Linked DNA regions of Homo sapiens. The protein of the gene in region 2 interacts with the protein of the main gene of each other region in a pairwise test. Each region holds a gene or a part of one and is shown on either strand. Other genes may lie near its edges. The genes, in order: TFRC, RMDN3, SLC13A3 and PELI2.

Evidence for each region.
Region 1: the proteins of RMDN3 (region 2) and TFRC interact in binary tests that used the Homo sapiens proteins (3 or more experiments, as listed by UniProt).
Region 3: the proteins of RMDN3 (region 2) and SLC13A3 interact in binary tests that used the Homo sapiens proteins (3 or more experiments, as listed by UniProt).
Region 4: the proteins of RMDN3 (region 2) and PELI2 interact in binary tests that used the Homo sapiens proteins (3 or more experiments, as listed by UniProt).

What each region holds. Positions count from the first base shown.
Region 1 is NC_000003.12:196,058,070-196,065,093, forward strand, and holds part of TFRC (transferrin receptor protein 1), read right to left. Parts: intron 6,360-7,024; coding exon 6,240-6,359; intron 4,871-6,239; coding exon 4,785-4,870; intron 4,577-4,784; coding exon 4,513-4,576; intron 2,179-4,512; coding exon 2,111-2,178; intron 564-2,110; coding exon 505-563; intron 297-504; coding exon 215-296; intron 1-214. UniProt on the Homo sapiens protein: Cellular uptake of iron occurs via receptor-mediated endocytosis of ligand-occupied transferrin receptor into specialized endosomes. Endosomal acidification leads to iron release.
Region 2 is NC_000015.10:40,752,243-40,759,787, forward strand, and holds the start of RMDN3 (regulator of microtubule dynamics protein 3), read right to left. Parts: upstream 3,013-7,545; 5' UTR 2,841-3,012; intron 2,549-2,840; 5' UTR 2,542-2,548; coding exon 2,355-2,541; intron 1-2,354.
Region 3 is NC_000020.11:46,585,445-46,592,468, reverse strand, and holds part of SLC13A3 (Na(+)/dicarboxylate cotransporter 3), read left to right. Parts: coding exon 1-65; intron 66-3,213; coding exon 3,214-3,309; intron 3,310-4,305; coding exon 4,306-4,410; intron 4,411-7,024. UniProt on the Homo sapiens protein: High-affinity sodium-dicarboxylate cotransporter that accepts a range of substrates with 4-6 carbon atoms, such as the citric acid cycle intermediates succinate and alpha-ketoglutarate (2-oxoglutarate), as well as other compounds including N-acetyl-L-aspartate.
Region 4 is NC_000014.9:56,289,402-56,296,425, reverse strand, and holds part of PELI2 (E3 ubiquitin-protein ligase pellino homolog 2), read right to left. Parts: intron 6,159-7,024; coding exon 5,970-6,158; intron 3,708-5,969; coding exon of another isoform or gene 3,660-3,707; exon of another isoform or gene 3,071-3,659; intron 1-3,070. UniProt on the Homo sapiens protein: E3 ubiquitin ligase catalyzing the covalent attachment of ubiquitin moieties onto substrate proteins. Involved in the TLR and IL-1 signaling pathways via interaction with the complex containing IRAK kinases and TRAF6.

The DNA.
Region 1 (7,024 bases), on a different chromosome or scaffold from region 2:
TTGTTATTGATCTTGGTAGCCAAGAATAATTACCTCAAAGTAATTTTGTAATCCTCGTCATTTGTCCTTAAAAACTTGTTTTCCTTTACTCCTCTGAATATGTACATAGTTGACTATAGCACAGGCATTCCCATTGCAATGCCCTATTCCCAAATACAGATCACTTCCTTTTAGAGAGCCTCTCTCCATTTGTCATTTAAATGAACAGACTTACCTCGCAAAAACAGAAAGAAACTGCTGGGATTCCAGAATATGCAAGGAAAGGGAAAGCAGCATTGTCTAAAGTGAGTTTCTCACTGCAAAGACAAAGAATGTGTCTTTAGAAAGTGTTTTAAAGAATAGACTGTTCTATCGTGCTAGTCCCCCCATCCAAAATAAATTCTTTAGCTGAATATCTTTAGGTGTAAGTAAGTTCAATGCAAGGACAGATTTAGATTCTACCTAATGTAGTAGGTAGAATCTCTGCTTTTCTATTAGTTTGTTCATTCACTTTTCTCAACTTACACTTTGCTGGCCCAGTTGCTGTCCTGATATAGAAATTGCCCAGTAACCGGATGCTTCACCTGTAAGATAAGAAATTATCATTAAAACTAACCTTTTGGAACTTATTTATTCAGGCTAGTCACTAACATGTTACTCTATAACAATTTTTAAATAAAAAACTTGTATTATATCTTCTTGAAAAGAAATTATTTATGATAGTTAAAACAATCTCAACTTTAAGTTATTACTAACTAGGCTCATGTTGTCAGTTCCTTTAGTTATGGTGAGGAAAAAATGTTTTCTTCTTAATTAACATTTTAAAAGTGGGCCTAGGCCGGGTGGGGTAGTTCACAACTGCAATCCCAACACTTTGGGAGGCCGAGCTGGGAGGATCACTTGAGCCCAGAAGTTTGAGACTAGCCTGGGCAACACAGCAAGACTTTATCTCTTAAAAAAAAAAAAGGAAAAAAAAATGAATAAAAGCTGGGCGCGGTGGCTCACACCTGTAATCCCAGCATTTTGGGAGGCCAAGGTCAAGAGATCATGAGGTCAAGGGATTGAGACCATCCTGGCCAACATGGTGAAACCCCGTCTCTACTAAAAATACAAAAATTAGCCAGGTGTGGTGGTGTGCACCTGTAGTCCCAGCTCCTCAGGAGGCTGAGGCAGGAGAATCGCTTGAACCCAGGAGGTGGAGGCTGCAGTGAGCCAAGATCGCACCATTGCACTCCAGCCTGAGTGCTGGAGGAAGACAGAGGAAGACTCCATCTCAAAAACAAACAAACAAACAAACAAAACCATGGTGGCTTACCCACAATTGTAAAAGCCCTCTCTGGGCTTCACACTATGCCTATCTTGTTTCTGGTTTCTTCCTTCTAGTGCATCTTATGCCACCAACCTAACTGGCAAATTCATGATCACCTTGCTTGAGATCCTATAATCCCTAGTATCTCTTGGATCAAGGCCAATGTCTGCTATCTGACCTGTTTCTAACTTTACTCACTCCAATATACAGCCTCTAATCCCATTAGGCAAATATTTTCTTTTTTATTTATTTATTTATTTTTTTTTTAATTATACTTTAAATTTTAGGGTACATGTGCACATTGTGCAGGTTAGTTACATATGTATACATGTGCCATGCTGGTGCACTGCACCCACTAACTCGTCATCTAGCGTTAGGTATATCTCCCAATGCTATCCCTCTCCCCTCCCCCCACCCCACATAGGCAAATATTTTCTTTCACATGCTCTCCCTCATTCAAAACTATGGTAATTGTTTATTCAATGAATATTTCCTCCGGCCTTCTCAAAGTATAGTTCAAGTTGATTTAAGCCTTCCTTAGCATTGTGACTCTATAGACAATCCCCTGTGGGCCCCTGCACTACAGCTTAGGCCTCATGGCATTTTGTTATATATTCCTAAATAAACAACATATTCTTTAAGATTGGAGCCCTCATCTCATATGGTTCAATAGGCAAGTATCCCTTAAATAACGCTGCTATAAAATTTATTCTCAATTCCTATTTTTTGTTACTGACTACGGTTTACATATCAGTGTTTTTTATCTCAGGTTGATTCAACAAAAATTAAGTCATACATTTTTGTAATGAGGTATATACTCACATTTTGCATTGTTTTCTCAATAAGCGTATACAACAGTGGGCTGGCAGAAACCTTGAAGTTGCTGGTACCTGAAAATAAATTGTTTTATCATTGCCCCTTCTCCATTCCGATAATTTTCACACTGCTACTTCTACAACTATAAGTACTTGACAAATAAGACAGTAATCTAGATCAGTGGCCCTGTGCAACAACTATCCCATTCATCAAGTAAACAAAAGTAATTTTGGTATCAAGCTCTTTAGCAACTAAGCTAACTTCACTCAAGTGGGCTCGTACTACTCCTTGAGTTTGCATACTTTAATCCAAGTCACCTTTTTTAAAAATATCAGAGCAGTTAGGCCGGGCACGGTGGCTCACGCCTGTAATCCCAGGACTTTGGGAGGCCCAGACGGGTGGATCACAAGGTCAGGAGATCGAGACCATCTTGGCTGGCACAGTGAAACCCCGTCTCTACTAAAAATACAAAAAATTAGCCGGGTGTGGTGGCGGGCACCTGTAGTCCCAGCTACTCGGGAGGCTGAGGCAGGAGAATGGCATGAACCCGGGAGGCGGAGCTTGCAGTGAGCTGGGATGGCGCCACTGCACTCCAGCCTGGGTGACAAAGCGAGACTCCATCTCAAAAAAAAAAAAAAAAAAAAAAAAAAAAATCAGACCAGTTTTAGGTTCAGCAGCAAAATTAAGAGAAAGGTACCTAGAGGTCCCATAAATCCACTGCCCCCACACATGTGCAGCCTCCCCCATTAGCAATTTCATGTTTAACTTTCTGGTTCACCCAGGTTAGAGCTATACATAGTATGCTTGCTATACTCAGCACATTCTGCGGCAAACATACAACAGGGAAATAACTAACCTAGAGAGGTTTAATTGTAACTCTTTCCTTTTTTCCCCCATGTAGACATTTCACTATTCTCAGCTCATCAGCTACATCTGCACTTTCTTTTTTACCCCATTCCTGTTGAATGTACAGCTGCACTTTAAATAACATTCAAACCCTTTTGTCAATTTTCTGCTGCCAGTGAACATTCAAACTCTTCTAGAAGTTTCATTATCCAATATTTCTATCAGTGATGCCACAACGTAACAGGATGTGAATTACTCTCTAAGTACCATTCTATATGGCATAGTTTAGTTTCTTCTCACCTCAATATAGTCCAGACTTATGGTCCTAAAACTTTAGTCCATCAGAATTACCTGTAGTGCTTGTTAAAGTTTTTTGTTTCTTTGTTTGGGTTTTTTTGCTTCAGGATACTTTGTCCTTAAGAAAATAATAGGTTTTTATTCCCCAAGGGTTGCCAAAAAAAAAGCCCAGTTTTTTTGTTTGTTTTTTTGAGATGGAGTCTCGCTCTGTCGCCCAGGCTGGAGGGCAATGGCGCCATCTTGGCTCACTGCAACCTCTGCCTCCCGGGTTCAAGTGATTCTCCTACCTCAGCCTCCTGAGTAGCTGGGATTACAGGTACTCGCCACCACACCCGGCTAATTTTGGTATTTTTAGTAGAGACGGGGTTTCACCATGTTGGCCAGGCTGGTCTCGAACTCCTGACCTCAGGTGATCCGCCTGCCTTGGCCTCCCAAGTGCTGGGATTACAGGCGTGCACCACTGCGCCCAGCCCAAAAAGCCCAGTTTTTAGACCAACACTCCCATTTCTGACTCAAAGGTCTGGGGTAGACATGACAGTTTGCATTCGTAACAGTTCCTAATGCTACTCATCTGGGGGCCACACTGAGAACTACCCACTGTTCTAGACAAGCAATTGTGCTCACTGTGTAACTTGACAGACTATTTAAAGGAAGGTTAAGATACAGGCTGAGGGCAATGGCTCATGCCTGTAACCGCAGCATTTTGGGCAGCTGACATAGAATGCTTGAACTCAGGAGTTTGACACCAGCCTGGGCAACATGGCAAAACCCCATCTCTACAAAAAAAATTAGCCAGGTGGCTGAAGTGGGAGGATCACCTGAGCCCAGGAGGTCAAGGCTGCAGTGAGCCAAGATTGTGCCACTGCACTCTAGCCTGGGCAATACAGTGAGACCCTGTCTCAAAAAAAAAAAAAAGCTTTCTTCCACTTCAAAGTAGTTTATCTGGCCAGGCACAGTGGCCCACATCTGTAATCCCAGGCCGAGGCAGGCAGATCGCCTGAGGTCAGGAGTTCGAGACCATCCTGGCCAACATAGTGAAGCCCTGTCTCTACTAAAAATACAAAAAATTAGCTGGGTGTGGTAGTGAGCACCTGTAATCCCAGCTACTCAGGAGGCTAAGGCAGGAGAATCGCTTGAATCTGGGAGACAGAGGTTGCAGTGAGCCGAGATCGTGCCATTGCACTCCAGCCTGGGCGACAAGAGCAAAACTCCATCTCAAAAAAGTTTACCTGAATTCATACACAGCTAATGAAAGGGATACTTACCAAGAACCGCTTTATCCAGATTAATATAAGTGAAAGCCTTTAAATGCAGGGACGAAAGGTATCCCTAGAAGAGAAGGGAAAACACTAATAAGTATAAATCTGTTTATTTATCACATACAGTAGCATTAGGGATTCATTTTCAATTCTGGACTCTACTGAGACTAAACGCAAAGGCAAAAGTGGTAAAATCAAACCTATAAAAACATCACTTCTGGACAACAGCCTAAGCCCACAAGCTCGTGTCCAATATGGGAAGGGATGATAAAGAATACCTCTAGCCATTCAGTGGCACCAACCGATCCAAAGTCTCCAGCACTCCAACTGGCAAAGATAATGCTTCTGCTGGGCTGAAACCCATCTGAAAGAGAAAAAAGTTAGCTTTACCTGAGGAAAGGTTATACACAGACAAGGATGGAAGGTATCCCACTTAAGATGAATCAGAAGGTCTAATTCCAAGATAGCAGATTCCAAAATCTTTTTTTTCTGAGCCAAAAAAGAAAAAAAAAACTAACAAAATCTTTTTTTGAGACCCCAGGTAAAAGAATAAAAGAATAGGAATAATTTTTTTTAAAGTAACCTACAAAGAGCAAGATAGGAGATCTGCAAATAAGATTTTGAGTACATAGCAGGGGCCAGTAGTCACCCTTTCACAATTTCATTCTTGGAGTTCCTTAACTTCTGGACCCAGAGATCATTGAAAACAGTGTAAGCATGATGATGCACATCTTGAGAAAAATCTTCAGAGGTAAATCCAAACATTGGATTTTTAAAAAAATAATTCTAAAATAAAATAAAAATTCACAAATTTAAGTTACAAGAAGAGTTTGCAGAGAAACTATATTTGTGACAGCACCTTTTGAGGTTACATGTATCACACTGCCCTCCATCCCTCCCACTTCCCTCACTGTATCTTTTTCTCCATTAATGTACTCTGTATTAAAGTTAAGCATTGCAGTTTGCCCTAAGACCCAAAGATTCAAGAATGTGACGTGATTTTGAATGTGTGGGTGGGTAGGAGTGTGAAAGAGTGGAAAGTAGGACAGAAAGGCTCAAAAATAAACAAAAGAGGCAGGGCACGGTGGCTCACTAGCAGCATTTTGGGAGGCTGAGGCGGGTGAATCACTTGAGGTCAGGAGACTAGCCTGGCCAACATGGCGAAACCCTGTCTCTAGTAAAAATACAAAAATTGGCCGGGTGTGGTTGTGGGTGCCTGTAATCCCAGCTACTCAGGAGGCTGAGGCAGGAGAATTGCTTGAAGTCGGGAGGCAGAGGTTGCAGTGAGCTAAGTGAGATCACACCACTGCACTCCAGCCTGGGCAACAGAGTGAAACTCTGTCTCAAAAAATGAATAAATGAATAAACAGAACAAAATTTCAATAGCTGTTAGGCCTCAGTACATGAGTAGAGAGGTATGCTACTGCTTTCAAATAGATTGCTTAGGGACTATGATCCACCTTATCACTCTGGATCCACCACACTAAGCACTAGGGCTCAGTAACTCCACTGTCTCAAAGAAACTGGTGATTTCTAGCACAGTTAAGACACTTTATGGAAAGCTGTTTCAAAGGAAAAGGCAGCTACAACAAAAGACAATCTGCCTTGTATTTAAGAACTAGAGTCTAGCATGAGAACCACAGGAATGCAGGCAAAGTGAGCAAAGCACAGTATAACATCTAGAACTGTATGCAGTGCACCAATATTCAAAAGAATCAAAATTTGTACTCTACCTTTTAAGACCATATCTGAGAACATCTGGGCAAGTTTCAATAGGAGAGCTGTGCCTACACCGGATTTTGCAGCTCCAGGGCCCCATGCATCTCTCTGGGCCCCAACTACAACATAGTGATCTTTAAAAAAGAAAAAAGAGGAAGAAAGAACTTATATAATCAGCTTCTAAACTTTTCTAGAATTAGCACATCAGTAGAAAGGTAAAAGCACAGTATATGTATTAAGGATAAAAGAGCCTTACTTCAAATCTGACTAAAAACTCTGGGAATTAAAAATTCACATGAGAATATTAATTTTACCTTACTAGTAGAGCTACTTTTTTCCTACACTACTAATTAAATTTACTGACTACTTAAGTCCAAGGACTTATTTCTTAGTAAGTGTTGGCTGTTTGATTGCATTTAAAGTTAACTCCAGGGACTGGCAAACTACAGCCCGCATGCCCATTCACTACGCACAGTCTGTGCCTGTTTTCTTGCTCCCACAGAGTTGAACAGCTAAAAGAGAGACTGTATAGCCTGGCAAAAGGTTTATTATCTGCCCCCTTAAGAAATTTGCTTATCACTGGTCTAGTCAATAACTTAGAATAGATTTTCTAGTCATAATGGTCAATTTTTAACAAGAATTTCCTAGGGCCTTATTACCTCCCAATAAAACTGACACATAGGCTGGGCGCGGTGGCTCATGCCTGTAATCCCAGCACTTTGGGAGGCTGAGGGAGGCAGATCACCTGAGGTCAGGAGCTCTGACCTCATGGAGCCTGACCAACATGGAGAAACCCTGT
Region 2 (7,545 bases):
CCAGAATTCAAGAATACCTGCTTTCCATTGGAAGAGAAGGCCCAGTGACGCTCAGATAGCACACGTTCACAGCCAGGTCATGGTAACAAGTCTCAAGAAACTACCCAGGGATCTCTAAACGAGAGCCCTCTGCTCCAAGAACCTTCCATACCAGGGCCCTTCAGGAATGCTGCACACCACGATAGATAATGTAACATGCTTGCCCAAGTGTGGAACCTGAAGGAGGACAGCTGTCCTGCTAGAGTTAAAAAAAAACAAAAACCTTCACCTCACCATATAGTGCCCAATACCAAGGAGTCAATACCAACCACATAGCAAAACTAAAACTAAAACTGAGCTCCCTCAAATTCTGATCTCTCACTTCACAAATAATAGTAGGGAAAACTTGGAGTTTCTCCCAGAACTTCATTTAGTATATCAGAGAAGGACTAGGAGAAAGGGGGCAGTTATTAAGAGAAAAGGTACACCAGAAAAAGCCCATCCAAACTGCCTCAGAAAGACACCGTCACTAAGCCCTGCTGACCCAACCCTAGATCTCAGAGTAAATTCCAGCAGTGAAATGCTAGCAAAGTGACAGCCACCTATGGTAACTGAACTGGAAAATGCAAAAACAAAAAAGAAACCAGAGAGGCAGGACCCTACAATACGGCAAGCATAAATCCCTTCTTAAAGGAAATCTGGTAAAAAACTAGGCCAGGCCACAACATACATCCAATAATGCTCAAGAATGTAGTGCAAGAAAGATCCCTGGCAATGTGGCCACTTTCTTCTAATCTCAGAAGAAACACTACTGCGAAGCAATTACAAACAAAATACAAGGGAAGGAAGCACACTCCAATACTAGATTACCACAAGATTATAAAATGCTGACAATCATTTGCAATCTAAGCTGATAGCTCTTTGAAGACTCCAAAACTAACTTTTCCAAACCATCTAACATTGGCAATCAGAGAAAACACTCATTTCCAATTAGCATGGGAGTGAGATAATGTAAACGCTCCTCTTGGCCAGGTGTGGTGGCTCACGCCTGTAATCCCAGCACTTTAGGAGGCCGAGGCCAGGAGTTGGAGACCAGCCTGGCCAACATGGGGAAACCCCATCTTTACTAAAAATACAAAAATTAGCTGGGCATGGTGGCACGCACCTGTGATCCCAGCTACTCGGGAGGCTGAGGCACGAGAATCACTTGAACCCAGGGAGGCGGAGGTTGCAGTGAGCCAAGATCATGCCACTGCACTCCAGCCTGGGCAACAGAGCGAGACTCCATCTCAAAAAAAAGAAAAGAAAAGAAAAAAGAAAAGAAAAGAAAAAAAACACTCCTCTTGCACAAAGATGGTAGTAGTTTGAACCAGCCCTAGATCCTTTGCTCAAATGAATTGACAAATCTGCAAGAACTACTCATTTCAGCTGTACAGGCTGCCAGCCACATTCAGCTTCAATTGCATTAAGCGTGCTCCTAGCCCTATGCCGTAGAAAGTCCACTGGACCAGGTGACCAGGCCCAACCTTGCCACTTAATCTGTGACAGCCTCAGGAAAGTTATACCATCTTTTTGAATCTTGGTTTCCTCATAGGAGGGATAAAAAGAAAAAAAAACTTGAATGAGATAGTTGCCAAGTTGTCTTGATAGTTGCCAAGTTGTCTTCAAATTCTAATATATGATTTAATACATAAGCCTCAAGACTTTTAATCCCTACAAGATTATTCTTTTTGCCCTCTTTTGGACTCTTCCTCTACTTATTACACACCTCACCCAACACTAAGCAAGTGCCTTTAATACCCACATAGCACTATTGTGGCCAGAACTAAAAGTGAAAGTTAAACAGTCTTTTTGAAATATACTTTCTTGTGAGTACAGGCGAAAGAGTAGAGAAAACCACGACTGCTTTTTTTTTTTTTTTTTTTTTGAGACAGAGTCCCACTCTGTCACCCAGGCTGGAGTGCAGTGGCGCAACCTCAGCTCACTGCGGCCTCCGCCTACCAGGTTCAAGCGATTCTCGTGCCTCAGCCTCCCCAGTAGCTGGGACTACAGGCCGCGCCACCACGCCCGGCTAATTTTTGTATTTTTAGTAGAGATGGGGTTTCACCATGTTGACATCTGGTTGAACGTTGGCCAGGCTGGTCTTGAACTCCTGACCTCAGGTGATCCGCCCGCCTCGGCCTCCCAAAGTGCTGGGATTACAGGCGTGAGCCACCGCGCCCAGCCCGACGACTGCTTTTTCAACAAGCTTCCAAAAAAGTGAAACCCTAAAGCACTTCTCTCCGTTACCCTGTCCCACAGTCTCCACCGAAAGCAGCCCAGACCTCAGGCCCATTAGTCTGCAGTGACCGCGGTCTCAGGAGACGGGCTCCTACCGTGGCGTCCGGGATCTGAAGTCTGCGTATAGTCCAGGGAGTTGGGCAGGCTCTGGCTGCGGCCATGACGCTGGGTCCGTTTCCATCGCTGGCTGTAAAGGAGGCACAGGAATCCAAGGCCGGCGGCGGTACCCAGCAACAGTCCCAGCCCGGCACGGGCACCACCCAGGGCTCCCAGTCTAGACATGCTGCACCTGCGGCCAGCAGAAGTCACCGGGAGCAGGCAGGCGGGCGGGCGGGCGGGGGTAAGGAGAGAGAGAGATTCGTGAACCCGGTAAACCCACCCTCAAGGCTGAACCCCGGCAGGTATCCCCTTGCCCAAACCCTGAGCTCTCGACTACGTGCACCCCAGTCTGAACCCTAAGGCTTCCTCCAGCCTCCTGGGCCCCACTGCCTCTCTTCTCACCCAGCCTGGACGTAGCCGCCCCTCCAGTACACCCCCCGACCCGGGTCACAGAGTCCGGCTTCTGGGCCTTCAACCCCCACCTCAGCCTCACGACACTGCAGACCACAAACCCGGCGCCCTGGCTGCAAACTCCTGGCCTTCCGCCGCGGCCCCCGAAGGCGCTCTGGCCTGGCAGGAGATCCACTCAGACCCTTACCCGGCCGCCAGCCACCATGGCAGCAGCCGCCGCGGGCTCACGCTGTCAGTGACCGTGACGTCAGGCAGGCGGCGCCAGGTGCTCGGCGCCCTGCGGGAAGGCGCAGAGAGATGACCGCGCCGGCCCCGCCCCTTGTCTGTTTCCCTCAGGGGCGGGGCCACGGGCGCCGCCGGAGGGGCGGAGTCAGCACAGAGCGCGAAAGGAAAGCAAGAAGGGGCCCAAGACAGGGGAAAGGCGGGAAGGCAGGGAGACTTCTTGGGCGGACGCTCGCGCAGTCACCCTCACCGTCCGGCAGCCAGGCCTCCATTTCCCTCCGGTCACACCGGCTTAACTTGCTGCTCCCGGAATACGCTCAGCATATTCACACTTTCTACCTGCGCTTCTGCCTGGACCTCCCCTCTGTACCTGGAAAACGTCACGCTCTCCCCACATTTTATTTTTATTTTTATTTTGTAGAGACTGGGTCCCGCTCTCCTGGTCTCTCAAAGTGCGATCCGCCCGCCTCGGGCTCCCAAAGTGCGTGAGCCGCCGCACCCGGCCATAAATCTTAAACCTAACGTGCTGTCTTATAATTCTGTTTTACTCTTGTAATTGTATGCAACTTCTTATAATTGTGGCAACTAAAAAGACCGATTTTATGGACTATGATAACAATTTTATTGTGAACATTTCTTAAGAGTTAAAATTTAGTTTAGTGAAAGAAATATCTAGGCCAGTCCTCCCAATACCCTTGACTAGATCTTATATTTATTTACCCTTTAATTGTGAGATATTGTATACATATAAGAATACAGGAGGCCGGCCGTGGTGGCACGTGACTGTAGTCACAGATACTCTGGGGGCTGAGATGGGAGGATCACTTGAGCCCAGGTCGTCGAGGCTGCAGTGAGCCATGATCACTCTGGGCAACAGAAGTCAGGATATCGAGGCCACCCAGGCCAACCTGGCGAAACTCCGTCTCTACTAAAAGTACAAAAATTAGCTGGGCATGGTGGTGCACGCCTGTAATCCCAGCTACTCGGGAGGCTGAGGCAGGAGAATTGCTTGAACCCAGGAGGCAGAGGTTGCAGTGAGCCGAGATCTCGCCACTGTACTCCAGCTTGGGCAACAGAGTGAGGCCTCCTCTCAAAACAAATAAACAAAAACAACAACAACAAAAAATATATTTATATATATATAAAGTATATATATATATATACACTTTATTTTGGAGGAAATAAAAATTTCCTCTGGAAACCTTCCCAGATCACCACCTTGGTGAAATTAAGCTTTTCACCCTGCTTTGCTCCTGTGGCTCTATTGCCTCCATTATACTTTTTTTTTTTTTTTAGACGGAGTTTCGCTCTTTTCGCCCATGCTGGAATGCAGTGGTGCGATCTCGGCTCACTGCAACCTCCTCCCCCGCCCCTGGGTTCAAGCAATTCTCCTGCCTCAGCCTCCGGAGTAGCTGGAATTACAGGCTTGCACCCCCACGCCTGGCTACTTTTTGTATTTTCAGTAGATACCGGATTTCTACATGTTGGTCAGGCTGGTCTCGAACTCCTCACCTCAAGTAATCTGCTTGCCTCAGTCTCCCAAAGTGCTGGGATTACAGGCGTGAGCCACCGCACCAGACCCATTACACTCTGTTCTGTGATTATTTGCTTTCTACTCTGTCTACACCACTGGACTGCCCACTCTTCCAGGATGGGGTTCACTCCTGATTCATCCCAGGTCCCCTGTGCCTGGCACAGCTCTAATGCAAAAGCATCCATAAAAGCTGAATGGAGGAAGGAAGAAAAGAAGGCGTGACCGACAGCACGCCCTGCCACTTTGACAGTGTGTTCTCAGCTGTGGCAGAAAACTCAGTGGCAGAACAATAATTTCTCCTCTCTACGGGGGGGAGGCAGCTCTGTGAGATAAACGGATTGTGATGAGAGGCTAGGCCAAATGGGCAGACCAAGCAGGGGAATTCATTTCCCCCTGGATATTAAAGATGTTATCTGGCAGGCACGTGTCTGCCAGGGCAATCAGCAGTGTGGTGGGTGGCTCTGGACAGAGCTCTTTATCTTGTGCTGCATCTGCAGACTAGCTTTGCAAATGTAATAAAGGCCTGGCTGCCTGAGATATGCACTGCCCACCTTCCCACCCCCTCCACAGCCCAGCCTGAGAAGAGAGCAGACCAGACCCCAAACTGTTGTCCTGCCCTCTGCCCAGAACATCTGCCTCATCTACCCCGGCTCTTCCAAGAGAGGTGACAAGTCAAATGCCTTGGGATGGTGGCCTTACCCTTGTGTATAATGTTTAAGGTTCTTGATGCCTTAAAAAATAATTCTTTCTCTAGGCCAGGCACGGTGGCTCCCGCCTGTAATCCCAGCACTTTAGGAGGCCTAGTTAGGTGGATCACGAGGTCAGGAGTTCAAGACCAGCCTGGCCAATATGGTGAAACCCCATCTCTACTAAAAAATACAAAAATTGGCTGGGTACGGTGGCTCATGCCTGCAATCCCAGCACTTTGGGAGGCCGAGGTGGGTGGATCATGAGGTCAGGAGTTCGAGACCAGCCTGGCCAACATGGGGAAACCCTGTCTCTTCTAAAAATACAAAAAAAAATTAGCCAGGCGTGCCATGATCTCAGCTCACTGCAACCTCTGCCTTCCAGGCTCAAAATATCCTCCCACCTCAGCCGGGGGTGGAACTACAGGCACATGCCGCCATGCCCAGCTAATTTTTTACTTTTTTTGTAGAGACAGGGTCTCCCTGTATTCCCCAGGCTGGTCTTAAACTCCTGGGCTCGGACAATCCTCCTGCCTCGGCCTCCTAAAATGCTGGGATTACAGGCATGAGCCACCATGCCCAGCCCTTTTAGAAATATATATATATAATTTTTTTTTTTGAGACAGGGTCTTGTTCTGCCATTCAGGCTGGAGTGCAGTGGCACAATCACCACTCACTGTAGCTTTGAACTCCTGGGCTCAAGCTATCCTCCTACCTCAGCCTCCCGAGGAGCTGAGACTGCTGGTGTGTGCTGCCATGCATGGCTAATTTTTCAGTAGAGACAGAGTCTCACTATGTTGTCCAAACTGGTCTCAAACTCCTGAGCTCAGGCGATCCTTCTGCCTTGGCGTTCCAAAGCACTGGGATCACGGGCATGAGCCACCATGCCCAGCCAGAAACTTTCTTTTTTGTAGAAATGGGAGTCTCACTGTGTTCCGCAGACTGGTCTCAAAATCCTGGGCTCAAGCAGTCCTCCTGCCTTGGCCTCCCCGAGTGTTGGGACTTACAGGTGTGAACCACCCAACCTAGCTCAAAAACTTTTAGTCTAATTTTGATAGATATAAGGGCTGTTTCCAGTTTTTTACTGGTTACAGTGCTGCTGTGAACATTCTTGTACATGTATCCTGATGGCTGTGAGTTTTCCTGAGGTTTATTTAGGAGAGGTTTGGCTGCGTCACAGGGTATCATTCACACCAACTTGCAAGCCCAACAGTAGTGGGATTGTTGACATCTTCACCAACACTTGATATTTACAGATTTTAACATTTTAAATTTATTTATTTATTTTATTTTTTGCTAACCTGTAAAGCACTATCTCACTGCAGATTTAAAATGTAGCTTATGGCCGGGTGCGGTGGCTCATGCCTGTAATCCCAGCATTTTGGGAGGCCGAGGCGGATGGATCACGAGGTCAGGAGATCGAGACCATCCTGGCTAACATAGTGAAACCCCATGTCTACTAAAAATACAAAACAATTAGCCGGGCGTGGTGGCGGGCGCCTGTAGTCCCAGCTACTCGGGAGGCTGAGGCAGGAGAATGGTGTGAACCCAGGAGGCAGAGCTTGCAGTGAGCCGAGATCACACTACTGCACTCCAGCCTGGGCAACAGAGCAAGACTCCGTCTCAATTAAAAAAAAAAATGTAGCTTAGGCTGGGCACAGTGGCTCATGCCTGTAATCCCAGTACTTTGGGAGGCGAAGGCAGGAGGATTGTTTGAGGCCAAGAGTTGGACACCAGCCTGGGCAACACAGTGAGACTGTCTCTACAAAAAATTAAAAAAAAAAAAATTAACTGGGGATGGTGGCATGTGGGAGGTGAGGTGGGAGGATGCCTCAAGTCCAGGAGCTCAAGGTTACAGTGAGCTTTGATCACACCACTGCACTCCAGCCTGGGTGACAGAGCAAGACCCTGTCTCTTAAAAAAAAGAAAAAAAGTAATTTAGTCTTCTGTACTCCTGGTGTTGCTTATGTGCTTGTTTGGTTGGATCTGGTACTGTTACCGCAACATGACCTCAATTCTTTTTTTTTTTTGAAATGGAATCTCACTTTGTTGCCCAGTGTGATCTGGGCTCACTGCAACCTCCACCTCCAGGGTTCAAGTGATTCTTGTGCCTTAGCCTCCCAAACAGTTGGCACTACAGGCACACGCCACCATGCCCGGCTAATTTTTCTATTTTTATTTTATTTTTTTCAGACGGAGTCTTGCTCTGTCACCCAGGCTGGAGTGTAGTGGCTTGATCTTGGCTCACTGAAATCTCCACCTCCCAGGTTCAAGCGATTCTCCTGCCTCAGCCTCCCGAGTAGCTGGGACTACAGGCACCCGCCACCAGGCCCA
Region 3 (7,024 bases), on a different chromosome or scaffold from region 2:
ATGCTGTTGTTCCTGTTGGCAGGCTGGCTCTGGATCTCCTTCCTGTACGGGGGACTGAGCTTCAGGTACCTCTCATTTTCTTTTTGGCAATAGAGTGGGGAAGCAGGGAATGGCGTTTCTAACCTCAGTATCTGCCTATGAAAACTGAGGATGATTGTTATTTCATGTTGTATTCTCATTTCTTTCTTTTATGTATGTATGTATGTAGGTATGTATATATGTATGTATGTATGTATGTATGTATGCATTTAGTTTTACAGACAGGGTCTTGCTCTGCTGCCCAGGCTGGAGTGCAGTGGTGCGATCATAGCACATTGCAGCCTCAATCTCCCAGGTTCAGTGTTCCTCTGGCCTCAGCCTCCCAAGTAGCTGAGACTACAGGCAAGTGCCACTGTGCCTGGTTAAATTTTTTTTTTTAATTTTTTGTAGAGACAGAGTCTCACTATATTGCCCAGGCTTGTCTCAAACTTCTGGCCTCAAGTGATCCTTCTTGTCTTGGCCTCTCAAAGCTCTGGGGTTATAGGTGTGAGCCACCGTGCTAGCCATATCCTCATTTCTTGACCTCCCAGGGATGTGAGGATTAAGTGAGAGGTGTGACCTGCCTGCCACACACAGACCCTCTGTTGATGTCACATATTATTCATAATTATTAATAGTATTGTCTTTAAATAAGGTAAACACTCTTGACCAGAGAAGAGGGGAGTGCACGATTTCCCATTTTATGGGGCCCTGATACAGAAGATAATTTGGGGTGGCATGAGGACAAAATACTAAATAACACCAAATCATATTATGGGAAATATGTCTTTATCAACTCTCATCACTCAGTCTACTTACGTTGAGGAGAAAGTCTCAGTTGGGTGCTAAAGAAACCTTAATATCTAACATTTCCAAATCAACCTCTAAACGAAGAAAGAGCAAGCTTCAGACCCAGAGACTTGAGCCAGAAATGATAACTAGCCAAAATATAATACTGGCACTTTGTTTTCCTATATTTATTTTGCTTACTTCAATTACTTTTTAATATGGCTACCTTAATTTGGATAGGCAATACATACATATGCTTCTCAAAAATCAAAACAGCGCTAAGAGGTATGCAGTGAGAACCCCTCTTCCCAACCATGGGCCTCTTCTGCCACGATATCCTCCCAAACAAGCATCCACTTTTATTGGTTTCTTGTGTAACCTTCCAGAGTTTTCTTAAGCAAATATGAGCAGACATAGATATCTTTTTCTAGTGACTGGCCTCCGTGACAGATTTTTGTTTGTTTGTTTATTTATTTATTTATTTATTTATTTATTTAGACAAAGTCTCATTCTGTCACCCAGGCTGGAGTGCAGTGGCACCATGTCGGAGTGCAACCTCCACCTCCCAGGTTCAGGCCATTCTCCTGCCTCAGCCTCCAGAGTAGCTGGGACTACAGGCTCTTGCCACCTTGCCCAGCTAATTTTTTGTGCCTTTTTTTTTTTTTGGTAGAGAGAGGGGTTTACTCTGTTGGCCAGGCTGGTCTCAAACCTCAAGTGATCCACCCACCTCGGCCCCCCAAACAGCTGGGATTACAGGCATGAGCCACCCAAGCCCAGCTGTTTTTTAATTTTTATTTTATTATTTTTTTCTCTTTTACCTTGCAGCTGTAGCTCAAAGGAAGCAAGCATTTTTATAAGATACATTTCCAGAAGTGGGATTTCTGGATCAGAGAATAAACACATTTTTATTTTAATAGATATTATCAAATCATTCTTCATAAAAATCGTACATGTTTCCTCTCCCATGAACAATGTATGAGAGTGTCTGCTTCCTTGCAGCAAAGTGGATTTTTGCCAATCTGATAAGAGAAAAATAACTTGTGTTTATTTTATGAACAGTAATTTTGGGCAACTTTTCATAGGTTTGGAAGCATATGAAAAGTTTGTTCATAGGTATTTTCTTTCCTGTGAATTGTGAAACTGTGTGTTCATATTTTTATACATTTTTTTCAAATGGGTTTTTGGTCTTGTTCTTACTAGTTTCTGGTATGCTTTATATTTTAGAAAGATGAGTGCTTATTCTACAATAGAAGCTACATTTTTTTTCCTGATTTGTCTTTTGGCTTTGCTTATGGTGCTTTTCTCCCTGCAGAATTGTTTTAATTTTTTTTTCAATCTTTTCTCATATGGTTTCTGAAATTTCAGTTACAGTTTAGAAAGGTTTTCCTAATACAGGACTTATAAAAGAATAATCATATGTTTTCTTCTAGTATTATTATTTTTTTTTACATTTAAACCTCTAATCTATTTGGAGTTCATCCTTATGGTACAGTGTGAAGTTTGGATTCAACTTCACTTTTTTTTGTCCCAAATGGTCACCCAGTGTCCTAACACCATTTATGGACACACAACATTTTACTATTTTGATGAAGTCAAATTTATCTATCTTTGATGGCTTGTGTTTTTGACGTAATATTGAAGAAACTGTTGCCTATTCCAAGGGCATGAAAATTTACCACTGCCCTTTCTTCTGAGAGGTTTATGGTTTTAACTCTAACCATATTATTCCAAGGCACATGAAAATTTACCCCTGCCTTTTCTTCTGAGAGTGTTATGGCTTTAGCTCTAACATTTAGGTCTTCAATCCATTTTGGGTTTAATTTTGTATTTGGTGTGAGGTAGGGGTCCAGATTCATTCTTTTCCACATGGCTGTCCAGTTTTCCTAGCACCATTTGTTGAAAGGCTATTCCTTCCCCCACTATTCAGTCTTGGTACGCCTGTCAAAAATCAACTGGCCATAGATGGATGGGTTTATTTCTGGGCTCTCAACTCTGTTCCATTGATCTATATGTCTGATACCATTTACTGAATAGCCCATCTTTTCCACACCAATCTGAGATAGCAATTTTATTATAGACTAAATTCCCATTTGTGATTGAGTCTGTGTCTAGACTTTCTGTTTTGTTCCATTGATTCCTGTGTTTATTCATGTGCCTGTTTGACCCACTCATGGATTTTAAGCCTGGAAGTCATATCATCAGATTCACATTTTCAAAGATCAACCAGGCTATACGTGGGGAGAACAACTGTAGCAAAGGAAGACAGTTGCAGGGAGACAAGCTATCAGGCAGTTGCAGCCTCCCGGACAGAGAGGATGTGGCTTGGTCAGGTGGTGGTGCTTGTTGTAGGTGAGAAGTTAGTTATACCTGCAGTGGCCACTCCTAATCTCCCACTTTCTGTTTCAGGGGCTGGAGGAAGAATAAATCTGAGATAAGAACCAATGCAGAAGATAGGGCTCGAGCTGTAATTCGGGAAGAATACCAGAACCTGGGGCCCATCAAGTATGTGGGGGCCCTTGGGTTAAGGAAAGAGCTGAGTATTAAACGCTCAGGAGAGCTTCCTCCTGGCCTGGCCTTGGGCCCATGGGGGCTGAGCTCCAGGGGAATTCCAGGACCCGTGGCGTGGGAGCCTAGAGATGGAGGATGGGAGGTGGTTTACACAGTCAACCTCTTGCCGTGGTGCTGGGGTAGAAACCTGAGGACCAAAAAGCCCCTCAGAGTGTACTTACAGTGGGATCTGCTACCTTCCACCCAAGGCACCGTTTCCCTCCCGGTACGCAGAATACCTGACACTATCTCAGGTGACTTCCGGGACCTTGTTTAATGCACATTTCCATATGGTGAAAATAACGGGTTCAGTAGGCCTGTGTTCAAGGACCAGCTGTGCCACTCATGTCCTGTGTGGCTTTGGTCATGGCACTAACCCTCTCTGGGCCCTGCTCTCCAGTCTGTGAAATGGGTACATTGGGTAACTGTCTCCTCCAACTCTTGGGGATCCTCTCTTTCCACCTTCATCCACCCTCTCTCCAGGTCTGTCCCCTCTCTGTGTCTTCTCCTTTCGGTGTAGACAGACTGTGTGTTTTTCTGTCTCTCTCTCTCTCTGTATGAATGCTCCTCTTTCTCTTTGCCTACTGCATTTCTGTCTGTTTCTCTTCCTCTCTGCTTTTCGGACTCTGTCTCTGTTTCTCACTTTCTTGATTTTCCGTAGGACCCTGGTAAACTCCTGGTGATAATGAAACACGCGATTTCGGGGAGGGGGTGGCTTGAGGCTCAGGAAGGATCCTGAGGGATCGTGGAAGTCCTAGGACAGGAATCATTTACAGTCCATTGGCACCCCTCCCCTCACTCTGGGCACTCCCTGGGGAGTGGATGACTTCAGCTTTCTCAGAGGCAGAGCCCGGGCCCAGTCACTCCCAGTGGGCAGCTGCCTGAGCCTGTGCCTGCTGCGGTCTGCCTGAAACCCGGGGTCACCATCATGCCTGCATGTCTGTGCCACAGGTTTGCCGAACAGGCTGTTTTCATCCTTTTCTGCATGTTTGCCATCCTCCTCTTCACCCGGGACCCGAAGTTCATCCCTGGCTGGGCCAGCCTCTTCAATCCTGGGTGAGACTCTGGGGACCCACAGGGAGGAGTCCAACAGGGAGGATTCTGGGCTGGGCCACCTGGAGCTGGAGAGGCGGCAGTGCAGCTGGGGAGACACGCATCCAAGTTTCCATCTTTTGTCCCATATGATTATTAATAGGTCCCTCTTTCACTCTCAAAAGAGTTTAGGTTTGGGTGATAAAATATGACTTCTCATGTGTTGGGAGCTCTGGATTTGGAGTCAGACTAAACTGGGTTAGAATTCTAGCTCTGCCACTTACGAGCTGTGTGACTGAGCAAATCGTTCATTCATTCAATCAACATTGATTGAGAACCTATTATGTGCTAAGCTGGATGCTGGATGCTGGGACACAGACAAAAGCAAGTAGTTAGACAACAAAACAACTGCATTGCAATGAGTGCTATGAAGGAAAGACTGAGAGGGTTATGCTATAAAATAATAGAGCAGGGGCATTGACTTTGGACAGTTCTGGGAAGAGCCAAAGCTTAGGAAGACTGCAGATGAAAGCAGTGGAGATGCCCTGGGAATGTCTACTGAAGCCTGAGTCAGAACAAACGTAGCATGTTTGAGAAAATGAGAAAAGCCCAGTGGGAGCGAGGCCTGGTGGGAAGGAAGGAAAGCGGGTGAGGAAAGGTAGGGGAGGGCCAGATCAGAGTGTCTTTTCGGGCATGTTATGCATTTTGGTTTGTTTTTTTTCTGTGAGCAGTGGGCAGCCATTGGAGGGTTGTAAGGTACTCAACCTCTCTGTGCCTCAGTTTCCTAATCTGTAAAATGATATTATACTAGTACGTTTTTCATTGACTTGTTGTAAAGGTAAATGAGTTAATACATGTCAAGTGATTAAAATGGCTCATAAAAAGAACTCAATAGTTGTTAGCTATATTCATTAGGAAATGGGTAGTGGGGGCAAAAATATAGACGAGGAGAATAGTTAGGAGCTATAACATCATCTAGATGGCCCGTGTCTTTTTGGGCCAAATCTGGCCCGCCATTTGATTTTGAATGATTTTTACATTTTTTAAATGGCTGCGGAAAAATCAAAAGACAACGTCTTGTAATACACGAAAATTATATGAAATTCAAATTTCAGTGTCTGCAAATAAAGTTTTATTGACACACAGCCACACCTATTCAATTACATATTGTCTATGGCTGCTTTCATACTCCAATGTCAAATGTGAGTCCAGACAAACACCATGTGGCCTGCAAAGCCAAAATACTTACTGTGTGGCTTTTTACAGGAGACATTTGCTGACCCCTGGTCTGGGGGATGGCTTGAGTGAGGGTGGTAGCAATGGCAATGTAGCAGTCAAGATATCATTCAAAGTTAAATGTGGGACTTGTGCTGGGTTGGATTGGGGGGTGTGAATGAAAGGAGTACCTGCATGGATGGTGGTTAATTGGAGAAGAATATTTTTTAGGGGGCTGGGAATGGCTTATTCATAATTCTATTTTGGACTTGGTTTAGACTTGTCAAGCTCAATAGGCAGTTAGATATGCAAGACTGGAGCTTAGAGGAGATGTTTAGGTTGCAGACATAAATCTGGGAGTCATTGTATAAATTTGGGAGTTAAATCCGTAGGAATCAATGGGCTCAGCTATGGAAAGTGTTTAAGTAGAGTATAGACCATGAGGAACCCCAGCACTTGGGAGCTGGGGAAAGGAAAATGAATTTACCAGAGAAACAGAGAGATGGTGAGTGAGGTAGAAGGAAAACTTAGAGCTATGGACCAGCAAAAGCCAAGAGAGGGGAGTGTTTTAAGAAGCGTGAGTGGGCACTGTGTCAAATTCTGGTGTGAGTGGGAACATGATTAAATAGAGATGTATCTGCTGGATTTGGTGAAATCTGATTATTTCAGTTAGCCCCATCCAAGAGAGATATAATGTGAGCCACATATGTATTTTAAATTTTTTGGTAGCTATATTAAAAAAGTGAAAAACAGATGAAACTAATATGAATAATATATTTTATGTATAAATTATTAGTGAGATATTTTGCATTCTTTTTTTCATGTGAAATCATCAAAATCTGGTGTGTGCTTTACATTTAAAGCACATGTCAGTTTGGTCTTGCCACATTTCAAGTGCCCACTAGCCCACATGTGGCTTGTGGCTACCATACTGGGCAGTGCACAATCCAGATATCTCACCTTCTGGGCCTCAACCTCTTCCCTGGTAAAATGGGTGACATAAATTCTGATCTCCTGAAGGTTGTTATAAGCAAGAAACAATATAATTTCATGAAGCCATGAAGCTCTTGTTGCTCTTACCATTTTTTTATTTTTCTAAAATGTAGATGCTTTATTTTTTTCAGATGCAAAATGGGCATTATAAGCATTTCAACAATACAGAAAATGTGAAGATCAGCTAAATCTCAGTCTCTAATTCTGATATACATCTTTCCTGACTTTTAAACAATGCCTATCTGAGAACTGTTCTACATTGTGATCACGCTGTTATCGGACTGCATACATTTGTCAAGACTTGTTAAACTATACCCTTAAAATGGGTGCATTTTATTGCATGTTAATTATACCTCAATGAAACATATGCCAATTGGCTTTTAGAACCCTATTAAAAGAAGATTTTTTTAACAGAAATGTGATCACGTCA
Region 4 (7,024 bases), on a different chromosome or scaffold from region 2:
TCTGATCACTGGATATGATACATATATGCCGTATGTACAAAGCCCTGAGCACAGTATGTATACCTAGCTTTACATGTTCAATTACTGTAGTGGTTATTTTAATGAACTTCACAAATCTCCTAAGATTTTCTTTTTAACTCCTTAAGTCAGTAACACAATGACTCACTGATCCCATAGGATGAGAGATGTCCTACCAGTCCATCCAGTGGAGACTCATCCTCATCTTGATGACAGCCAATCCAGAAGATCTTGCGGGGGGCCTGCAGTCATTACTGGAGGGTCCAAAGCACTCCTGGTGACCCTTAGCTTCCTCCACCTTGAATCTATCTTTCATCATTCATTTTTAAGGTTTGAAGCTAAACAGTTCAACATGAGCCTTCATTTTTAGAAGGAGGCCTGTGCTATGCACTAAGTGCTTATAAGACTGATTAACAGCTGACAAGCAGCAGCTAGGCGTGGTCAGCAAGAACGTGACCGCTGCCTCCACATGCCAGATGCATGCTAAGCCTTGGAGGTACCAAAGGCCAATAAAACCTCTTCCCCATCCTGCTGAGACTTGCTCTTCAGTAGTGGAAGGCAGACATGCCCAGAGCTCAGAGTGCATGAAGGCCAGTAAAGCACTGTTCAAGGCCACAAATTTATAGCAGCCAGGAGTGTGGACTCTGGGTTTGAACCCTGGCTCTCCCACTTATTAGCTGTATGACGCTGTGCAGATTACTTAAACTCCTCGTGCCTCAGTTTCCCCTTGTTTAAACTTTAGAAAAGGTGGTTGTGTTAGATAAGTAAATGCAAAGAGTTCTTAGAGAACACTGTCTGGTACGCAGTCAACACTCTGTAAATACCTGCTACTATTACTCTGATGATGACAGACGGTCAGAAATGGTTTCTAAAAGGTTTTTCTTTAACAGAGATTTGAGAAAGATGTCAGGCCTCAGTAGGGAGGATAGCAGGAAGGCACAGCAGGGAGAAGGAGGAGAGGCCAAATGGCATATGCACCAAGGGAGCAACAGGGAGTTTGATGAGGCTGTGCAGCCAGGCTGAACAAGGATGGACGCAGTTCAGGGCACTGGGTGGGGGGGGACGAGAGACCCAGGCGGGAGAGGGAGGCTGGCATCCATGCCCAGAGGGAGTTGGTAGGGGGTTTAGGTAACTATAAAAGAACTGATTGACCTTTCAAAAAGGTCACTTCTAGAACTTTGGAGGGTGGGTTGGAGGGGTAAAGATGAGCTGTGAAGGAGGCAACTGGTGCTCTCTCTGGGTAGAGAGGGTGAGTACACCTCAACAAAGACAGTCTCAGTGGCAAGAGACAGAGGCACAGGGACTAGAGAGAAAGAAATTAGACTCGATGGCACTCAGCTCTTGATCTGAGCAAGAGCCTCTTACGTGCCTGGTTGTCTGGGTAGAACAGTGCTTTCCACAGACAGAAACACAGGAGAAATGGCAGATGAGGGAGTAAATCCTGATTTCACCACTTAGTAGCTCTGTGGTCTTGAGTCAACGACTTAACCTCTCTGGGCCTGGCTTCCACATCCATTAAGCTGGAATAATGCCAATACATGTCTTATAGGATTGTTGTGAGAACTAAATAAGTTCAACAGCAAGAGCCAGGCCAGTTCAGTTTTGGGTGTGCTGAATGTGAGGGTGTGCAGAGTATCGGTGGTGGTAATGCATACAAGGCACGTGTGATGCAGCGTTGGAGACAGATCAGGCTCGAAGAAACATATCTGGGATGTTATCCGCACCTAGGTGAAGCTGTGGGAATGGATGCCACTGCCCAGGCAGGGTCCCAGGGAGGGCAGAGAGGACTGAGGACAGAGCCAGGAGCTGGGGTGGAGGAAAAGAACCATGTAAGGGAAAGAGAGAGGTATGGGAAGCACCAGAAATTTTGTCAATCTTTGGTTCAAAGGACTTTGGCGGCTTTCTGCTGCCCTTGGGGTACAGCCCAAGCTTCTTAACACACTTAAAAGGTCACTCCCAATGCAGTCACTCGACTTCTCCTGCTGTAGCTCTTCCCTTCCTAACTGGAAACCAGGACTGTCCTGCGATGAGCTGCAAGGAGCTGGAGTCCATGAGCGCACTACCTCGGACTGCCCACAGGCAGGTGCAAGAGCAACCTCTGCCTAGAATACTCCACTCCAGTACACCCTGCTCCAGCTGAGCCCTGGTTGGCAAACTCCTACTTGTCATCCAGGTCTCACCTGGATGTCACTTTGCCCTGGACATTTTCCTTGTCATGAAGAAATCAGCCCTTCCCAAGTATTAGTTTTTAGAAAAAGTTAAGGTCCCAACAAATGATAAATCTTAATACTGTACAGGACATACACTGTGACTCCTTTCAGACAGCCTGAAGTTTGCTGATGCTCCTTCCCCGCCCCACCACCATACCGAGCATCCCATGGTCTCCTCTCCTCTAACTGGTGACGTGAGGCTCCTGACCTTGCTGACCACAGGCAATTCTCAGAGGAGGCCTCATTGCAGGATAAAACTGTGTCTAAAGGATCACCCTGATGTGGTAAGAAGCTGAGGTATGGTGGTGGCCTAGCCTCTGGCTGTGGAACAACCCCCCTTTCCTCCTGCAGGGCAGTTCTTGGTAAACAACAAAGTCTTATTATAAATCTGGGGTGTATGGTTTTTTATTTTCCACATACCCTTGACTCCCACATCTGGGGTAGGTGTCCTGTGGAGGGAAAGTACCTTCGGTACCTTCTCATGACTGTGCTCATCACACAGTATCTGCTGATCTGCTGCCTAGTCTGTGACCTCCTCCAGACCATGCAATTAGAGGGCAGAGCGTGGACTTGGTGTTTTCTGCCACATCCCCAGTTTGCAACCCCTGCTTAGTAATAACAACCAGCCAGTCATGGGGCATTACTGTGTCCAGCACTGTTCCAATCCTTTCCAGCTACTGAATTTAGTTCTCACAACAGTCCTATTAGACATGTATTAATATTATTCCAGTTTGGGAGATGTGGAAGCCAGGCACAGAGAGGTTACGTCGTCAATTCAATACCACAGAACTAAGTGGTGAAACCAGGACTTGAACCTGGTGGCCTGATTTAGCAATCATTAGTAGGCATGAATTCAGATTTTATTTTTTAAATTCTACCACAAAAGAAAAGCTATGAGCAGGCACAGGAATTGACAGTATTGTGGAAGCAAGAGACATTTGGCCTCTACCATGGCAACTAATGGCCCCTACATAGCAACTATCTAAGCACAGGGTAGTGAATTCAACCCCCCATCCACCACTTCTTATTAGCAAGTGACTTAACCTTTTAAAGCCCAGGTTTCCTCATCTGTAGACGGACACAATAACAACACTGACTTCACGGGTTATTTTAAGCAACACTGGAAAGACAATTAATGTAATGCACCTGCTAGAGCCTGACCATAGCTACGCTATGGTTATTTTTATAATTTCACCTAAAATTAGGTATGCAATCAACTTAACTGAATTTACTTAATTTTATACAAAGCCAGTTTAGTTTAATAAAATACTTCATATATAATTTAATTAAATACTCAAGGCCCTCCTGGAGTAATATTATAAATGTTACCATATGTTATCATTAACTAGCTAAAAAAGGAGGGCACAATTCAAACTCCATTCACCTATTTATTCAGGGAGTTAAAGGCCTGAAAAGACATTTCCCCCATATTTAATTAATTTTGTTGATTAGTACACAGTTCTGAGGTTCCATCATTTGCTGTAATAATGAAAAACAACGGTGATTTCTTGTTACACATACATTAGTATATTGATTCATATCAAATGCTCAGTATGATATTAATACATAATCTTCCACCAGCACTAGCTCCACAATGTGACTACTATTGTTTTAACAAATATTTTAGACTTTTAGCAGCTCACTTTATTTCTCATATTTCTGTATTAGACTGCAAATGACAAGTACTGCCAGAGACTGTCTCCAAAATCTAACCTCCAGATAAACATAATTTATATCAAATGCTACCAGCAACATGTACAGGACCAATGAGTCATGAATTGAAACAGAAGTTCAAAGAGTCAGTAAGCTTTCCTCGAAGACAGACAAAAACTGTTCTCCAGAGGTTAACAAGAGGAGATTGCAGGAAGAATGTATCCGTTCAGTGTCCCATAAGCCCAAGATCAGGCTGATAGAAGCCTTTGTAACTGGCCAGGTTAATCGGATGCTATCAAATAGGACAGCACAATTTTACATAGTTCTCAGTGTCGCTTATAGGGACTAACTTCAAAAATAGCCTGTATATTTAATACAACTCATTAATACAAGCCATTTTTGGAGTTCGTTCTTTTCAGTCGCACTGTAAAATTCTCCAGCACACATAGCAGCCTGAGAAGGGTCATTACACAATAACCAGAGTGGACGAGAAACTCATCCTGTGATATGCCCTCCTGGACAAAGGCGCTCCCCACGGACTCCAGCGTATGCTTTATACTCACCCAGGGAGGCAAATGCTCAGGTGTAAACCATCCCTGGCTCCCCACAACATGGTACTGAGTAGTATTAGGTGTCCAGGCTCTCCATCAGGGAGACCTGAGTTTGAATCCCACTGGCTGCCACCTGCTAACTCTGTGACACTGGGCAATCTTTAACTTCACGCCACATCTTCCTCATCCATGAAATGGGGATGACTCTACTTCCCTAAGAGGGCTGCTGTGCAGATGAAGTGAGCTCATGTCGGAAATGTTAACGCAGAGTCTGCACCCAGCAACCATTTACTGACTTCTTACTCTTGCTGTTATAATGATGAATAACCAGTTTGGCCAATCTAGGTCAGTTTTGTATAAAACTATCCAGTGATCAGAAACAAAAGATTATTTAGAAAAACTGCTTTCACATTTCCTCCTTTGTTTACAATTTCTTGAAAACATTCATACAAAATTTATTGAATTTGCTTTTTTTTTAGAAAATGCTTCTCATATTTATTCAGCCATGGTGCACTGTAAGACGCATACGCTGTGCCTGAAGCTGAAAAATGGTGTAAAATAGAAATAAAAATAACCATTCCCTAAACACAAACATCCAGTAGAGAACAGCAAATGAGGTCAGTGAAACAGCCCCCAACTTCTTTTTCCATCTTAGACATTTTTGGTGATGATCTTTCTCTCTGACAAGTGCTAGGTCAAATCCTCTATTCTGTATACATTTTATTCTGTGGGAGTTTTGAAGAACTCCTTCTTTTCTAGCTTCTAGAAAAAGACATTTGTTCTCTCTCGTTCTAGCTTCTACCTAGCAAATTAAGAAAAGTACAGGAATGGACAGCTTACTAAAAATCAGTGGCTGTGCTACATGGCTATGGCAAGATCAGAAACCCAAAGTTCTATATTTAAGGTATTATAATTATTCTCCAAGAAAGAATGGGTTTAAAAAAACTGCTTTAGGGCATGGGGATAAGTGGTGATATTTATAGGAAAATATTAACATGCCAGGTCAATGCAGTATATAAATCATTTCAAGTAAACAGTTGTAACTATGATTTTGGTGGACAGTATAGAGAATTCTGCCTTAATATATAGGAATTCAAAGGGAAAACCAGCTGACTTATTTTTTACTTCCAGAAAGTCTAGTAAATAATTCCTTAATGCATAATTTTTACTAATTGTTTTTGGACTGCTCAAACGTTTTCCAAATCAATAAAGTTTTACACTAAAAATAAGTTTCTTCTCCTTAAAGTGAATTTAAGTAGATTTTTGTGGTGAGGTATATAATAAAAGATAATGCTCTTCAGGTGGTAAGGAGCAAAACACAATTTACTCCCACTATGGGAAAAGTTGAACCCCTGAAGGAGATAAGGCCATTTCCCTCTTGATTTCAGGGGCTTGTGGAATTCTGCTTCTCCTGAGTTACAGTACATGGCGCTTGGACCTGCACAAAGGTTCTGAACATCAGGGGAGGAAAATGATAGCCTTCGAGTTAGGCTTGAGTAGTTTCGTACTTCACACTTGCAGAGTGAAGCACACTCACCAGCTTTCCTCGTTGCTGGGCCGACCTGGTTTCTCGCAAGGTGTACACATCTCCACAGACAGAGATCTCGCGCCAGACCCCGGGCTGGGACTCCTCGGTGAAGCCCCCTCGTGGATGCATCACCAGGACGCCATTAGTAGTGAGCCCATCCATGTGGCCGTCGGGGTTTTTCCACTTTGCTGCCTTTTCCTGGAGAGAACACAGCAGAACAGAAAAAGTAGGTTAAGATGATGTTGAAATGGAAAGGATTCTGGAATTTCTTTAATACATTGCATAGAGGCAGAGGGGAGGAAGGTGATGAATTTTCATTTTCTATTTAAAGCTAATAATCACAAGGATAACATATGCCATCCTTTCGACAATATAAAAGAAGTGCTGAATGGATGAATGACTTATCACTGGACACACATCATAGTTCTCAAGAACTTGCAAAAAATCGAGGCCTGGGCTTCTCCCTCTAAGATTCTTTTTACCTTCCCCACAACCCCATGAGATTCCAGGAATCTGGTGTGTTTTCTCTTTTCAGTTATACTTATGCCATGCTCCTATCCTGTTATCTAAAAGTACTTTCTATGTTCTCACTGTCAGGATAGAGAAGAGAAAGGACAGTCATAAAGAAAGACCTTTTATTAAAGCTAGAAAATTCCAAAAATGTTAAGCCAACAAGTCGGGGTCATTATGTTTTCATAATAATCACCGTTTAAATTCTCAAAGGTAGATGGCGCATGTAGCTTGACATGACGACAGGACAGACACTCTTGGGTGCTTGTGCCACAGCTCTTCCCTTCAGCTTTCTTGGTGACAGAGCTCAGCTACTGTTCATGTGGCTGGGGCGGGGGTTGGGGGGTGGTGGGGAATCCTGATTAACCCAACATGACACTCCCAGCCCTCTTCCCAATAGCTGGTTTACAGGTGGGCACAGCACATGACTGGGCTCTGACTGATGACACATGATATCTTCTTGGAGGCTTCCAAGAAAGGTGTCTGTGCTCTAAGAAGAGACAAGGAAGAAACAGTGCTTCTGCCACCCTCTTCTCTGGCTGGAAGTTGTCATG